Linked DNA regions of Homo sapiens. The protein of the gene in region 4 purifies or fractionates together with the protein of the main gene of each other region. This does not show direct contact. Each region holds a gene or a part of one and is shown on either strand. Other genes may lie near its edges.

Evidence for each region.
Region 1: the proteins of ADK (region 4) and LGALS9 purify together in Homo sapiens (co-immunoprecipitation; one large-scale study listed by IntAct). This does not show direct contact.
Region 2: the proteins of ADK (region 4) and RBM12 fractionate together in Homo sapiens (co-fractionation; one large-scale study listed by BioGRID). This does not show direct contact.
Region 3: the proteins of ADK (region 4) and ADI1 fractionate together in Homo sapiens (co-fractionation; one large-scale study listed by BioGRID). This does not show direct contact.

The regions. Positions count from the first base shown.
Region 1 is NC_000017.11:27,629,814-27,633,987, reverse strand, and holds the start of LGALS9 (galectin-9), read right to left. Parts: upstream 2,801-4,174; 5' UTR 2,723-2,800; coding exon 2,684-2,722; intron 1-2,683. UniProt on the Homo sapiens protein: Binds galactosides. Has high affinity for the Forssman pentasaccharide. Ligand for HAVCR2/TIM3. Binding to HAVCR2 induces T-helper type 1 lymphocyte (Th1) death.
Region 2 is NC_000020.11:35,651,663-35,654,900, forward strand, and holds part of RBM12 (RNA-binding protein 12), read right to left. Parts: coding exon 862-3,238; 3' UTR 1-861. Other genes in the region: CPNE1 (copine-1), read right to left, coding at 1,866-1,880.
Region 3 is NC_000002.12:3,513,032-3,516,531, reverse strand, and holds part of ADI1 (acireductone dioxygenase), read left to right. Parts: exon of another isoform or gene 1-1,622; coding exon of another isoform or gene 1,623-1,724; intron 1,725-2,555; coding exon 2,556-2,675; intron 2,676-3,500. UniProt on the Homo sapiens protein: Catalyzes 2 different reactions between oxygen and the acireductone 1,2-dihydroxy-3-keto-5-methylthiopentene (DHK-MTPene) depending upon the metal bound in the active site.
Region 4 is NC_000010.11:74,525,221-74,528,720, reverse strand, and holds part of ADK (adenosine kinase), read right to left. Parts: intron 3,466-3,500; coding exon 3,295-3,465; intron 962-3,294; coding exon of another isoform or gene 947-961; exon of another isoform or gene 1-946. UniProt on the Homo sapiens protein: Catalyzes the phosphorylation of the purine nucleoside adenosine at the 5' position in an ATP-dependent manner. Serves as a potential regulator of concentrations of extracellular adenosine and intracellular adenine nucleotides.

The DNA.
Region 1 (4,174 bases), on a different chromosome or scaffold from region 4:
GAGGATGGATTTTCACACTGGATTTATGGTCCCACGGGACTGGGCTTGCCTCCCAGCTCTGTACACTAGCAATTCTGACACTGGCCAAGTCACTTGACCTGCCTGTGCCCCAGTTCCCTCCTCTGAATGGCAGGACAGTAACACCACCCGACAGTGTTCTGGAGAGGACTGGGTGCAACGCTGTGTGCTGAGCCCCTGGCTGGCAGCGTTCTGAGAGGACTGGGTGCGATTCCGTGTGCTGAGCCCCTGGCTCATGTCAGACATGACAGTGCAGCTCTTTGCATTGAACAAATCGATCCCTCTGCTGAGTCATGACTTGCTCTCTGTTCCTGATAGTGCCCAGAGACCGGGGACTTTTCCTCCTCTTCTTATCTGGAAGTCTAGAAAGCAGAGCTGAGCCCTGTGAACCAAAATGTGGGCAGCCTTGTTTTGGACTCAGCATCACCAGAGGACACCCAGGCCCGACCCCGAAGTGGGGAGCTCAGCCTGGCTGGCCAAGACTGCGTGCCAGCAGGAGGCCAGTACGTGGCTCTTAGCCAAGGTGCCCCGCTGCCTCAGAGGCTCCATGGTCCTGCTGGCCACCTTCCATGACACTTTGATTTTAGACTTCTGACCTCCAACACTGTAAGAACAAATGTGTTGTTTTGAGGTTGACCAGCTAAGGCTGCTGTGGCATTTGGATCCATGTGTGTCCATGAGGGCTCTGGGCATGACTAGGAACATTTATCCTCACAGCAACCCCGGCCACTTTTACAGATGAGGAAACTGAGGCACAGAAAAGTTCAGTCACTTGCTCAAAGTTACACAACTGGTCAGCAACAGAGCTGGGATTTGAACCCCAGCACCCACGCTTCTAACCACCACACAGGCTTCCTCTCATGAGTAAGCTGAGAACATCCTTATTCCTGGCTCTCCCAGTGCTTCCTGGACCACACAGCACGTGGTTCCAGCTTCCCCCAGGCCCTCCAAAGAGGCTGGGCTAGATGAGGCCAGACAAGAAGTGGGAGTGAGGTTTCCAAGCCAGGCCCTCATGGCACTCAGCCCTCCTCAGCAGGACAGCGAACCGCGTGACCTTCCCCCACTGTCGGCATGTGGAGGAAGCGTGGCTCCGACTGCCAGATGGGTCACCAAGTGAGGCTTAATTGTCCCAACCCAGGGGAGCCCCCGTGGGGTAGAGGGGTACTCTGGACACCCATAGGGGCTGCACTGATCATCTTTCTTGTCTGGACTCCAAGGCCCTGTTTTAACTCTCTGATGTCCGTAGGATAATTTTCCTTCTGAATCCAAGGATTAGAAAGTAAAAACCAGTCACCAGAATAATAATATGTCAGAACCTGGAAGAAGCTCTGGGATCCCCTCTTTGACAGAAAACCAGAGACAGGGTGACATGCCCAAGGCAGCACCTGCTGACCCTAAGGCCCCCACCAGCGGCCTGTTCCAGCTTCCCCCAGCCCCCTCTGTGCAGGTCCTACCTCAGGGGCCTCCACAGGGTGGCTGAGGTGTCATTGGTGACAGCCAGGAGGAAACAGGCCTCCTTTCCCCATTCTTTCTCTCTGGAGTTTAGAAAGCAGAGCCGAGCTCTGCAGACCAGAACGTAGGCAGCCTCATTCTGGACTCAGTGTCACCAGGGGGCACTCAAGCCCGACCCTGGCCTCTGCTGAGGTGGGCCATGGCAGCTTCCCTCCCTCAGTACCCTGCCTCTGCCCACCCTCCCCACCCTGCCTCCCCACCCAGGAAGGACCCATCAGCCCACCCTCTCCAGCCCCTCGGGAAGCTCTTTGCCAAGGCGGGGTGAGATCCTATGACAGGAGCCGGCCCAGGACACAGTGACCCCTGAAGTCTCCTGGGCTCCTGGGGCTGCCACTCCCATCTGGAGGCATTTGGCAACTGGCCTCTGCCTCCCTGAGCCTCAGATTTTCCGTGTATGAAGGGGACTCATAAACCTCACAGGGTTTCAGCAAGGCACCTGCCGCCCTCTGACCCCACGCTGCAGGGACAGTCCTCACCCCCCTCTCACCTCTGAGACTGCCCCTCCACAGATGCCCTGAACATGCCCATGCCCAACCTTCAGAGCACAGACACCTCCTCGGGAGGTCTTCCCTGCTGCCCTCAGACACCCAATAACATGAAACACTCCCAAAGCACCTACAGTGTGTCAGGCACTGTTCAAACACACTAGATACACTACTTCCTTAATCCATATCCCAACCCTGGGAGTGGGGGGCTCAAGTATTATTCCCACTTCACAGATATGGAAACTGAGGCCCAGAGACCACCAGCCAGTAAATAGCTGGACCCAGGGAGGCCACCTTCACAGTAAGCACCCTTAACTACCATGCCGGGTAGCGTCCTTACTGTCCCAGAAGCGTGCTTGCTTCCTCTTTACATGAACCACCCCGCTCTACATGTCTTCCCCTGAGCACACAGGACAGGACAGGACAGGACAGCTCAGTCAACACTGTCAAAGCCATGACTCGTGGGAAGGAGCATCCCTCCAGGCATGAGTGAGCTCAGCACGGCACAGGTGTGCCAGGATGACCTCCTCTGATATTTCTGCCCTGCTTGTGTTCTCTTTGGGATGCCCCCACCCCCATCCCCTGCCACCCAGGAGTTGCTTCCTCAGAGCCCCAGAGCTGTGTCCCTCTGGCTGAGGCAGCCCTGTGCCCATAGCCCTGGAACTCACTGGACTCAGGTAGGGAGCCTGGGAACCGCTGAAGGCCATCTCTCCGCCGCCTCTGTGGCCACCGCTGCCTTTCACACCCACTAGGAAGTCCTTTGTAGAGGGAACGACTTAACAAAGAAATAGAAACCAAAGCAACTTGGCTGTTATTCAATGGGGAGGAGCCGGCAGCAAAAGGAAGTGGGTCCAGAGAGAGAAAGGTATGGTACTGGGTGGACTGGGGTGACACTCACAGAGGGAAGTAGGCACTCCCAGCCCCAGTGACCTTTCCCTCCTCCCTCTCCTGTGCTCAACCCAAGCCTGAAGCATATTTGGTTCATAGAGGTCTACAATGCTTGACCACACTGACATGACAGCAAGTTGCCAGATGACACTGCCCAGAAGTATGTGGCTGTGTGTCCTAAGCATGCTTGGCCACGGAGTCCAGAAAATAATGGGGCTGGGCATTGCCTGTGCACAGGGTGCTTGTGGGGAAGGGCGGCTTCAACCCATTTTACATACAGAGAAGCTGAGGCTCAGAGTCTAAGGGGCATGCCCCAGGTCACACAGCTAATTCGTGGCCGCCTGAACTTTATGAAGATTCTCAGACTCTTCAAAAAGTATTTCTCCTGTTTAAATTTATATTATTCATGTAAAAACATAATTATGTAGAGGGGAATATTTTGCAAGAAAAACACCATAATGAATATTTTTATTCTACAGTATGGGGTGCCCAGGAGCTTCTGATCCTCCCTCTCAATGAATCTCTCTTGATTCTCTTCTCCTTCTCTTCTCCATCCTTATTTTCTGCACTTTAGGATGAGGAGAGAAGTCTTGGACATGATAGAACATTTCAAGTGACATGGGGCTGGGAAGGAACATATGGCATGTGCAGGTCGTGGGGGAGGGAGCCATGAAATAAACTTACCTGAAGTCGACCAGGTCCCAGCGATGTGCTGGTGAGAAGGCCCAGAACTCAAGCTGGGTAGGGTAAGTGCTGGCAGGTAAGGGCTGTACGGGTGCGAGAGGATGGCAGGTGCCCCAGGGCCATACGTGAGTCTGCACCTCTCTTCCTTCCTGTGCTCCACCTAGATGCACTAGAATTTGCAGACTAATTCCTTTGAGATGCTCCAATAGACTGAGGCCATGTGTGCCATCTGCACTGTCCATCCCCATTATGTTCCTGGATCAAGTACCAGTTTAAGGAGTAGACAGTACAAGGGGAGCAGAAAGGAGAGAAAGGAAGGGAAATTCTTTGCGATCCTCTCGGACACCAGGGACAATTTCATCACGGCACATCATTTGTAGGCAATCACAAATTGATTGCGATACGCAACAACTGGAACTCTCATTCACAGCAGACTGGAGTGTAAAATAATCCAACTTAGAAAAATGGGCAGGGCGTGGTGGCTTATGCCTATAATACCAGCACTTTGAGAGGCTGAGGCAGGAGGATCACTTCAGCCCAGGAGCTTGAGACCAGCTCGGGAAAGGTTGGAAGACCCTGTCCCTACA
Region 2 (3,238 bases), on a different chromosome or scaffold from region 4:
ACACATTATTAAAAGTGGTTTCTGGTTTTCGATACCATCCAAACAACATGAACAATTTTTAAACTGACTAACCTAAATCGTGGCGGTCAAACCAAAAAGGCTCTGGTAGATAAAGGACTCCATAGTTTATTTTTATGGCAAAAGTCTTATTCCACACAGTTTTAAGTGTGACATTAGAAATCAAAGTTTGAGGTTATAGCACAAACGAAGTGTGGACTTTTATATTTAGGGAAAAAAACCAACAAAACAGTTCTGCTCATTTACAAATGAGTCAATTAGACAAACAAAGCAGCAACTTCTGAAGCAGGACTGTCTATACAGCAAGGACCCTTAAGAAGCAATAAAGGTACATACAATGAATCTGTATACAGAAATTTTATTCAATTTTAAAAGAAAATGAGGACTTTAGACAAAGCTTTACCCTATAACAAAGCAAATCTGTCCAGCTTTAAACCAAATTCTGAGAGTAGCCAACTTCTATTTTCAGCAGCTGGCAAGAGCACCCTCAATGAGTTCTACTGACATTTCTATTTTCTTCATCCCATATGGTATAAAACAAAACCAATCTAGACTCCTTGATAAGCTTTATGTGGTCATTTGAGTTTTACAAATGGTTTCTCTAATGGTATGCCAAAATCATTTATGTGTTCTCTCCAGATAGCTTTACTGTAACATACAGCAATGTTTATCCTGGTGAGTGAGTCTTCTGTAAACAGTCAACCAATGCTCTATGTTATGGAAACCAAGCTATATGCAATTGAAACAATCCACAGGTTCTAACCTGGAAATACTAGGAAAACAATCTGGATGCATTAATCACAGCAATATGAAGATCTACCCTATAAAAAATGATGTGAATGGCTACCCTAATACAAGTTTTACTTTTCTTGAACCTATAGGCCTGTCATTTAAGTCAATGACAGCAGCTGTGGCTTCATCCCGAGACTCAAAGGCCACCATGGCTTCACCTGTGGGCATACCTTTTTCATTGTATTTTAAACACACTGAGCCTGGGATTACTTGATAGCCATAAAAGAAATCTAAAATCTCATCAATAGACACAGTAAAGGGCATGTTTTGCACTTTAATTACTGTCGGTCCTGGTTTTCCAGAACTAGATGCAAAGCCAGGGGGACCACCAATATGGATTGGGCCAGGGCCGGGGCCGGGGCCGGGGCCAGGCCCAAAAGCTGGTGGCCCACCCAAATGCCCAGGGGCACTTCCAAGACCAGGAGGGCCACTTCCAAACCCCGGGGGACCGCCTAAGCTACCAGGGCCATTTCCAAAATTCTGAGGGCCCCCTCCAAATCCCGATGGCCCACTTAAATTGTTTGGTCCACCTCCAAAACCCGGAACATCCAGTCCTAGACCAGGCAAACCACTGTTTCCAACTGAAGGCATACCAGGCCTAGCATCACCAAAGGCCCCGCCTCCTAATCCTGGAGGAGGGATTGGTGGCCCAAAGGCATTTGATCCACCAAAATTACCAGGAAAGTTAAATGGAGGCCCATTATTGGCTTCCTTTGATCCTACAGTCAGGAAGGCATGCTCTTCACCTCCTGCACTAGGTATTCCTGCACTGGGCATTCCCGCACCAGGCAGTCCTGCACTGGTTATTGCTGAACCAGGCAGTCCTGTGCTGGGCAGGCCTGCACCGGGAAGTCCTGCACTGGGCAGTCCCACACCGGGCAGTCCCGCATTGGGCATTCCTGGAACTGCAGGATTACCTGGCACAGGCATCTTTAATCCCTTTTTTCCTTGGGCAGGGGGATTTTTCTCAATCTCTCTCATATCTTCTAGGGTAACTACATGAACAAAAGCTTCTCTCCCATTAAGTTTTTTACGGTGTAAGCGTTCAGACTTACGTGCATCATCTTCATTTTTAAACTGAACCAATGCCTGTCCTAGACCTTGCCCATTGTTATCAACAAGAACATGTACAGCATTTTCATCCACTGGGATTCCTTCTAGGAACTGAAGAACATCCATCTTTGTAATGCTGAATGGAATATTTGTTATGTGGGCACAGACTTTGGCAGAGTTGACATCCCCCTCTGGATTTAGTATCATTTCCCTCTGGTCATAGCTGAAGTTCTGCAGTCTTTTTCGAATCATATCTATCTTTTCTAGCATACCTTTCTTAGTAATTGGATGAACTTGAATAAAGCGATTGCCCATGTACTGTTTATGACGACACAGAGCAGCCTTATAGTCAGCCTCATTTCTGAACTCTACAAAGCCTTCGCCAGTTGCTTTCCCATTGGGTCCATAAGCTATATAAATACTATCTTCCACAATATCCAGCTTTTTAAAAAAATCAATGACATGTTTGTTTTCTGCTTCAAATGGTAGCCCTTTCAAGTAAACACAAAAACCAGCCTCATGTGGTGATCTTGACCTTGATCTTTTCTGCCCACTGGGCGATTTTGACCTGGGAAGTGTCTGAGGAGGGGGATGAGTTTGTCCAGAAGGTCCCATATTTTGCTTAAAAGTGATATGGCCTCCAGCAGCTACCCACTGTCTTTCTGTGGCAGGGCTAACTTCCACATAGCGTTGAATCATCAGCATTCTGTTTCGTTTCAAAGCTTCAAATGTATCTTGAGGGGAGAGAAACTTAACCAATCCATTCCCATTATTTCGACCTACATGATCTTTCAACAAATGCACTGCATCAACACGGAGCCCATGAAAAAAATCTCTGACATCATTTTCCATTGCAGAAAAGGGCATTCCATGCACACTGACATACAGATCATCAGGGTTGATGGGGAGTGGCTTCACACTGCTCTGAGAGTTCATCTGGATAGGGTTAACAGGATTCAACGGACCAAGAAACATAGGATTCAGATTATTGTTCAAATTCATAGGTGCTCCAGAGCCATTCATTCCAGCAGGTAGAGGTGCCACAGGTGGCGGATTCAAGGGCGGCATGCCCGACATGGGTGGCAGTGGGGTCATGGGTGGCACAGAAGGAACTGGGGGAATCGGGGGCACAGGAGGCACAGGAGGCAATGTAGGTACTGGAGGAGGAACTGGAATTGGGGGAATGGATGGCATTGGTGGCAGAGATGGCATCGCTGGAATTGGAGGAATTGGTGGCGGCGGGACTGTGTTCATTGGAGAGGCTGTGCTTGGAACAGTTGAGCTAAACGTTGGGCTCCCAAAGGAAGCCCCCATATTTGGAGGAGCTGTTCCTACGCTGGCTGTGGAAAATGTCTGTATGTTTTTGTTGCTTTCA
Region 3 (3,500 bases), on a different chromosome or scaffold from region 4:
GGGGCAAACTGCTCTCTTACATCTCTCTTGCTCTTTTTTTTTTTTTTTTTTTTTTTTGAGATGGAGCCTCGCTCTGTCACCCAGGCTGGTAGCGCAGTCTTGGCTCACTGCAACCTCTGCCTCCTGGATTCAAGTGATTCTCCTGCCTCAGCCTCCCGAGTAGCTGGGATCACAGGCGTGGACCACCATGCCTGGCTAATTTTTGTATTTTTAGTAGAGATGGGGTTTCACCATGTTGGACAGGCTGGTCTTGAACCCCTGACCTCAGGTGATCTGCCCACCTTGGCCTCCCAAAGTTCTGGGATTATAGGTGTGAGCCACAGTGCCCAGCTCCATCTCTCTTACAAGGCCACTAATCCTATAAATGAGGGCTTGCCCTCATGACTTAATCACATCCTAAAGGTCCCACCCCTTAATACTATCACATTTGTGTTAAGTTTCAACATTCGTATATTTAAACTTATGACACGTGTCATATAATGTGTCATATTACATATTATGTGTCATAATATGGACACATTCAGACCATAGCAAATAGTACTGTGCATATCATGCAGTGGATAGGCTAAGTTTTAGAGTCAACTTTGTAGAAAATAACGTATTGATGACTAGTACTTTAATATGTTCTGGAGTATCGGGGGAACCCACCCCCAATATTTCAACATAGGTTCCATTTTCCATAAGTGTCGGCCAGCTGAGAAATAAAGAGAGACAGTATAAAGAGAGGAATTTTACAGCTGGGCCGCCAGGGGTGACATCACATATCGGTAGGACCGTGATGCCCGCCTGAGTCTCAGACCAGCAAGTTTTTATTAAGGGTTTCAAAAGGGGAGGGGGTGTAAGAACAGGGAGTAGGTACAAATATCACAGGCTTCAAAGGGCAAAAAGCAGAACTACTAATAAGGGTCTAACAAAGATCACATGCTTCTGAGGGAACAGGACAAAGGGCAAAAGCAGAACCACTGATAAGGGTCCAACAAAGATCACAGGGCAAAGGGCAAAAGCAGAACCACTGATAAAGATCTATGTTCAGTGCTGCACATATTGTCTTGATAAACATCTTAAATAACAGAAAACAGGGTTCGAGAGCAGAGAACTGGTCTGACCACAAATTTACCAGGGTGGAGTTTTTCCCCACCTTAGTAAGCCTGAGGGTACTGCAGAAGACCAGGGCGTATCTCAGTCCTTATCTCAACCGCATAAGACAGACATTCCCAGAGCAGCTGTTTATAGACCTCCCCCCAGAAATGCATTCCTTCCCCAGAGTATTAATATTAATATTCCTTCCTAGGAAAAGAATTTAGTGATACCTTCTCTACTTGCACGCCCATTTATAGGCTCTCTGCAAGAAGAAAAATATGGGTGTTTTTGCCTGACCCTGCAGGCAGTCAAACCTTATGGTTGTCTTCCCTTGTTCCCTAAAAATCGCTGTTATTTTATTTTTTAAGGTGTACTGATTTCATATTGTTCAAACACACATGTTTTACAATCAATTTGTACAGTTAACACAATTATCACAGTGGTCCTGAGGTGACATACATCCTCAGCTTACGAAGATAACAGGATTAAGAGATTAAAGACAGGCATAATAAATTATAAAAGTATTATTTGAGAACTGATAGATGTCCGTGAAATCTTCAAAACTTATGTTCCTCTGCCATGGCTCCAGCCGGTCCCTCCATTCGGGGTCCCTGACTTCCTGCAACACTGGAGTTTGTTGTTCAGTAAGTAGTGATGATATAATGTGCAGTTTATTGCAAAACATAAAGTGTGCTAGATTCACTGCCAGTAGTTTTAAATAAGAGTTCAGATGAATTCTGCCTGGAGCTTCATCAGGGAAGTGCTTCGTCAGGAAGGAACAGTAAAACTGAACCTTAATAGAGATAGGATTGTGATAAATGAAAATGTTGAATGGGAATTTTAGGCATAGAAAGCTGTCATGAGCAAGGTTGTGGGGATGTGAAATATCAAATATTTTTAAGATAGCCGATCATCCTATTTGGTTTAGAATGTAGAGTTCTTTAAAAAGTAGGAGATGGGAACAGATAGAAGTAGAAAAGTCAGCTGGGGCCAGATGATAGAAGGTTTCTCATTCCAGTTTAATTAACTTGAGTTTTATTTGCAAGCTGTGAGAGCATACAATGTTTTGGCTCATGGAAACAAACTGACCAAAGAGATGGCATTGAGGATCAATGAGACTCATGAGTGGGATGGTGGCAGAGAAACAGGGCACAGTGAGGGACCTGTGGAGTGGACAGAAAGGCCTGAGGTGGTGAGACTACCATCTCAAAATGGGAAAAAGAATCCCCTGGGATGGACTGTTGCAGAGAAGGGAGGCAGAAATCAAACAGAACTCCATTGTATGTATAGCTGGTGTTTTGGAGAATGGAAAATCCATTAAATGGCTAGAGGAGATGAAGAGAGTTAGTTGAGGGTTGAAAAAATAACAAATGATAAATTTGGAGTATAAAATCATATTGGAGATCCAGAAAGAGAATGTTTCTACATCTCCTTGTTAATCTGAGCTCTTGTTTTTGGTGGGTTAACTCTTTTAGCTGGATGCTGACAAATATGAGAATGATCCAGAATTAGAAAAGATCCGAAGAGAGAGGAACTACTCCTGGATGGACATCATAACCATATGCAAAGATAAACTACCAAATTATGAAGAAAAGGTAAGGGAGCCCTGGATTACCTGGAAAAGAAGTATCATTATATTCACTACTAATAGACGCAATATTTTCTTTCTTTTTTCTTTTAATGTCTGTATGAGGCCATTCTTGCTTTGCTATAAATAAATACCTGAAACTGTGTAATTTATAAGAAAAGAGATTTAATTGGCCCACAGTTCTGCAGGCTCTACAGGAAGCATGTGCTTCCTGTCACCACCATCTGCTTCTGGGGAGGCCTCAGGAAGCTTACATGGCAGAAGGCAAAGAGGGAGCAGGCTTCTCACATAACAGGAGTGGGAATGAAAGAGAGAGCAAGGTGCCACACTGTTTTAAATGACCAGATCTCACAAGAAGTTACTCACTGTAGTGAGGATAGCACCAAGAAGATAGTGCTAAGCTATTCATGAGAAATCCACCCTCATGATCCAGTCACCTCCCACCAGGTCCCACTTTCAATACTGGGGATTACATTTCAATATGAAATTTGGGTGGAGACACAAATCTAAACTGTATTATTCTGCCCCGGCCCCTCCCAAATCTCATGCCCTTCTTGAATTTCAAAATACAATAATCTCTTCCCAATAGTCCCCCAAAGTCTTAACTTCCTCTAGCATTAACTTAAAAGTCCCAAGTTCAAGTCCAAAGTCTCATCTGATACTCATCTCCTTTTACCTATGAGCCTGCAAAATCAAAACAAGTTAGTTACTCCCAAGATACAAAGCGGGTAAAGGCATTAGGTAAATATTCTCATTCCAAAAGGGGGAAATTGGTCAAAAGAAAGGAGCTACAGGACCCATGAAAGTTCAAAACTCAGCAGGGCAGCCACTA
Region 4 (3,500 bases):
TTATTAAATTCCTTTGATCATTATTGAATTATGTTGTTAGTTTGCTTATTGTTGAGTTGTTACTGTGTTAAATATTCTGAATATGAATCCTTTATCAGATATATGATTTGCAAATATTAACTCCCATTCCACTAGTTGTCTTTTCACATTCTTGTTAGTGTCCTTCGATGCCCAAAAATTGTTAATTTTGATGATGTCTAATTTATCTATTTTTTCCATTTGTTGCTTGTACTTTGGAGTCTTTTTTTTTTTTTTAAGTGAAGATTGTTTTGATATCATCAGCATCTGCTGCAAACTTAAACCACTTTTGGGACTTTCTTTTCTCTTTTGTCTCTACCAAACTTTTAGCATCATTCCCTGATTCTAAATACATTTTCCACCTTCTTTTTACATGTCTTTTACAAATTTGAGCTTTTTTTTTAAGTTTTAAAACTTTTATAAGTTCAGTGTTGTCACTGTATGTTTACATATTCATTGATACAATTTACATCGAGATTTTTACTTATCCATTTTTGCAGATATGTACACAAAGATACATATTCAATAACTGAGAAACAAGTGAAACTTCTGATCTATACTTTCAGGTTTGTTCGATCATGACACTTCTGATAAGGATCATGGACATACCAGTTTCACCTCTTCCAGAAGGACGTCGTCATTTTATCTTAAGAGTTTACTCTGGGTTTTATTGCCGAATACAAATTCCCTCAATCGCTTTTTTCTTGCAGGTGCCTTTTTCCATAATTTTTTCTTATAACCAGCCCTTCTCATCCAAAGGCCACAATGAAGTCGAAGAAACCTATAGATGACAGCTTTCACAATCCTTCTCTTGCCTTTTCCTGTACTGACGTATGTTAGAGATCTGGCTGGCAGCTTCAAGACACTTGGAAGCAAGAGGGCCACTCTATTAAGGATCGCTGAAGTATGCCCACATGTCAGGTTTCTCTCAGATGTGGTAAGTCTGGGAGTGGAGGAAACAACTGGTGTCTGAATATGACTAAAACGTCCAGTGGACAATGCAGAAATAAGAGAGGCATTTTTGACACAGTTTTGGTAGGCTGAAGATGCCAAAATATTCAGAGGCCATAAGATTCCTGAAGCTGCTCTCACTGCACCGGCAAAGGCAGAGGCAGCTATCTCGTTATCCTCCAAATTTGAGCTCTTATTAAAGAGTTTTCTGCGTGCTCTGCTATATTTTTTCAAAAGGTCCCTCCACATTCTCTCCTTAATTAAGATCATTTGTGACTATAAAGTCCAAATAGCATTTTTTATGGCATTCAATCTCCCTAAGCTTTCTTTACTTCCAAAGTTTCATTCTTTGGAATCATATTTATGTTTTTTTTTTTTTGTTTGTTTGTTTTTTGAGACGGAGTCTCGCTCTGTCCAGGCTGGAGTGCAGTGGCGCGATCTCGGCTCACTGCAAGCTCCGCCTCCTGGGTTCACGCCATTCTCCTGTCTCAGCCTCCCGAGTAGCTGGGACTACAGGCACTCGCCACCACGCCTGGCTCATTTTTTGTATTTTAAGTAGAGACGGGCTTTCACCGTGTTAGCCAGGATGGTCTCAATCTCCTGACCTCGTGATCCACCCGCCTCTGCCTCCCAAAGTGCTGGGATCACAGGCGTGAGCCACCGTGCCCGGCCTCTTTGGAATCATATTTATCTTTTTTAAAAGTTTTAAGATTTGTCTCTTAAACTCTAGAGAACTTATTTAAGTGCTGCCAGTCTGATCTTTCTTGACTATTTAGAACTCTGAGACCAAATGTTAACTTCTCCCAATGATTCTCAAGACTACTGAGACCAATGCTTTAATGTTATTCAAAAGGCTTGAATAGCACTTTTCCCATTTACTTCTTTTACCCTTTACAAAATAAAACTGTTAATAAGGAAAAACTAAATGGTAGATCTTAGTCAAATTAGGCTTCTAGCAGTTATATGGCACTTGGCTATTACCACTATTTCTTGCCAGTATCTCAATTTGTGAATTATCAAGAATATAGCATTTCCTTCCAATGTCACCATTTATAACCAATGTAACCATCACCTTTGCAGATACACTGTGATATTATTTCTATGGATCATCCTTTAATCTTTACCCAGGTGATCTCGTAAACTTCCAGGTCAATTTTTATGTTATTCTAGGCAGATGGCAGTTATTAGATATAAAATTGATGAATATATTCAAACTATGTTAGAACTATGGAATTAGAATCAGAATGAACTTCTGGGATGATTAATACAATACCTTCATTGTATACATTAAACCATCAAGTGACATGGCCAAGTCATAGGAAGACACACTGAAGGATTTTTTCCTCTTTCATGGATTTTTAAAGAGGTATAAACAGTAAATAAGAGGTATAAACAGTAAACAAGCAATCAAAGTAAATAAGCATTTAAGTAAATAAGCATTTCCATAATTTAGAATGGAAGAAAATACATTCTTGGTAGAAAGAAAAAACTGTACTTGTTGAGATGAAATTCCATTTTATCACCTTCAACTATAACAGACAATATTTTAAAAATATTATTAATAAAGAAATATAAATGTAATATATCAAAATTTACTCATAATTTATTAAACAAATATCAAATGGACTTAGACTCTGAAGAGACTTAAAAAAGTGATGAATGTGCTTTTTTATCCTGATTGTGGTCATAGTAACAGGACAGGTATCCATCTGTAAAAACTCACAGAAATTACAGTAAAAAGGATGACTCTTACTATAAGTAAATCAAACGTCAAACACCTTAAAAAAATAAATGTTGGGCCGGGCACAGTGGCTCATACCTGTAATCCTAGCACTTTGGGAGGCTGAGGCGATCAGATCACCTGAGGTCAGGAGTTCGTGACCAGCCTGGCCAACATGGTGAAACCCTGTCTCTACTAAAAACACAAAATTTAGCTGGGCATGGTGGCATGCGCCTATAACCCCAGCTACTTAGGAGGCTGAGGCAGGAGAACTGCTTGAACCCGGGAAGGAGAGGTTGTAGTGAGCCAAGATCATGCCATTATACTCCAGCCTGGATGAAAAGAGGGAAACTCCACCTCAAAAAAATAAAAATATAAAAATAAATAAATAAATGCTTCACTAAGAAAGAAGTTAGTATATACTGAAGGAAATATTGAAAATACTGAGAGCAGTTGACATTGAGGCAATTTTGTTGCACAATTCTCAAGGACATTTACACAAAAATTTAGGATTTAATTTATATATTTCTAAACATATATACACACATCAGAAATAAACAAACAAAAAACCCCCAGGTTCTTTTGAAAAAGGAAAGGTAACTCACTGTCTCATTTCCAAAAAGTATATCAACATAAGGCATAACTTTCATCAATGATTCCTTGTAGAACTGGCTAATAAACGGTGCAGATAGATTCAAAGTGAAAATCCTGTTGTTTTCAGAAGCATGGTGAGCCACCTTTAATACTGACTCTGGGGAAACTGTAAGAAAAAAGCCCTGGATGAAGAAAAAAGGAGGGAAAATTAGAAATA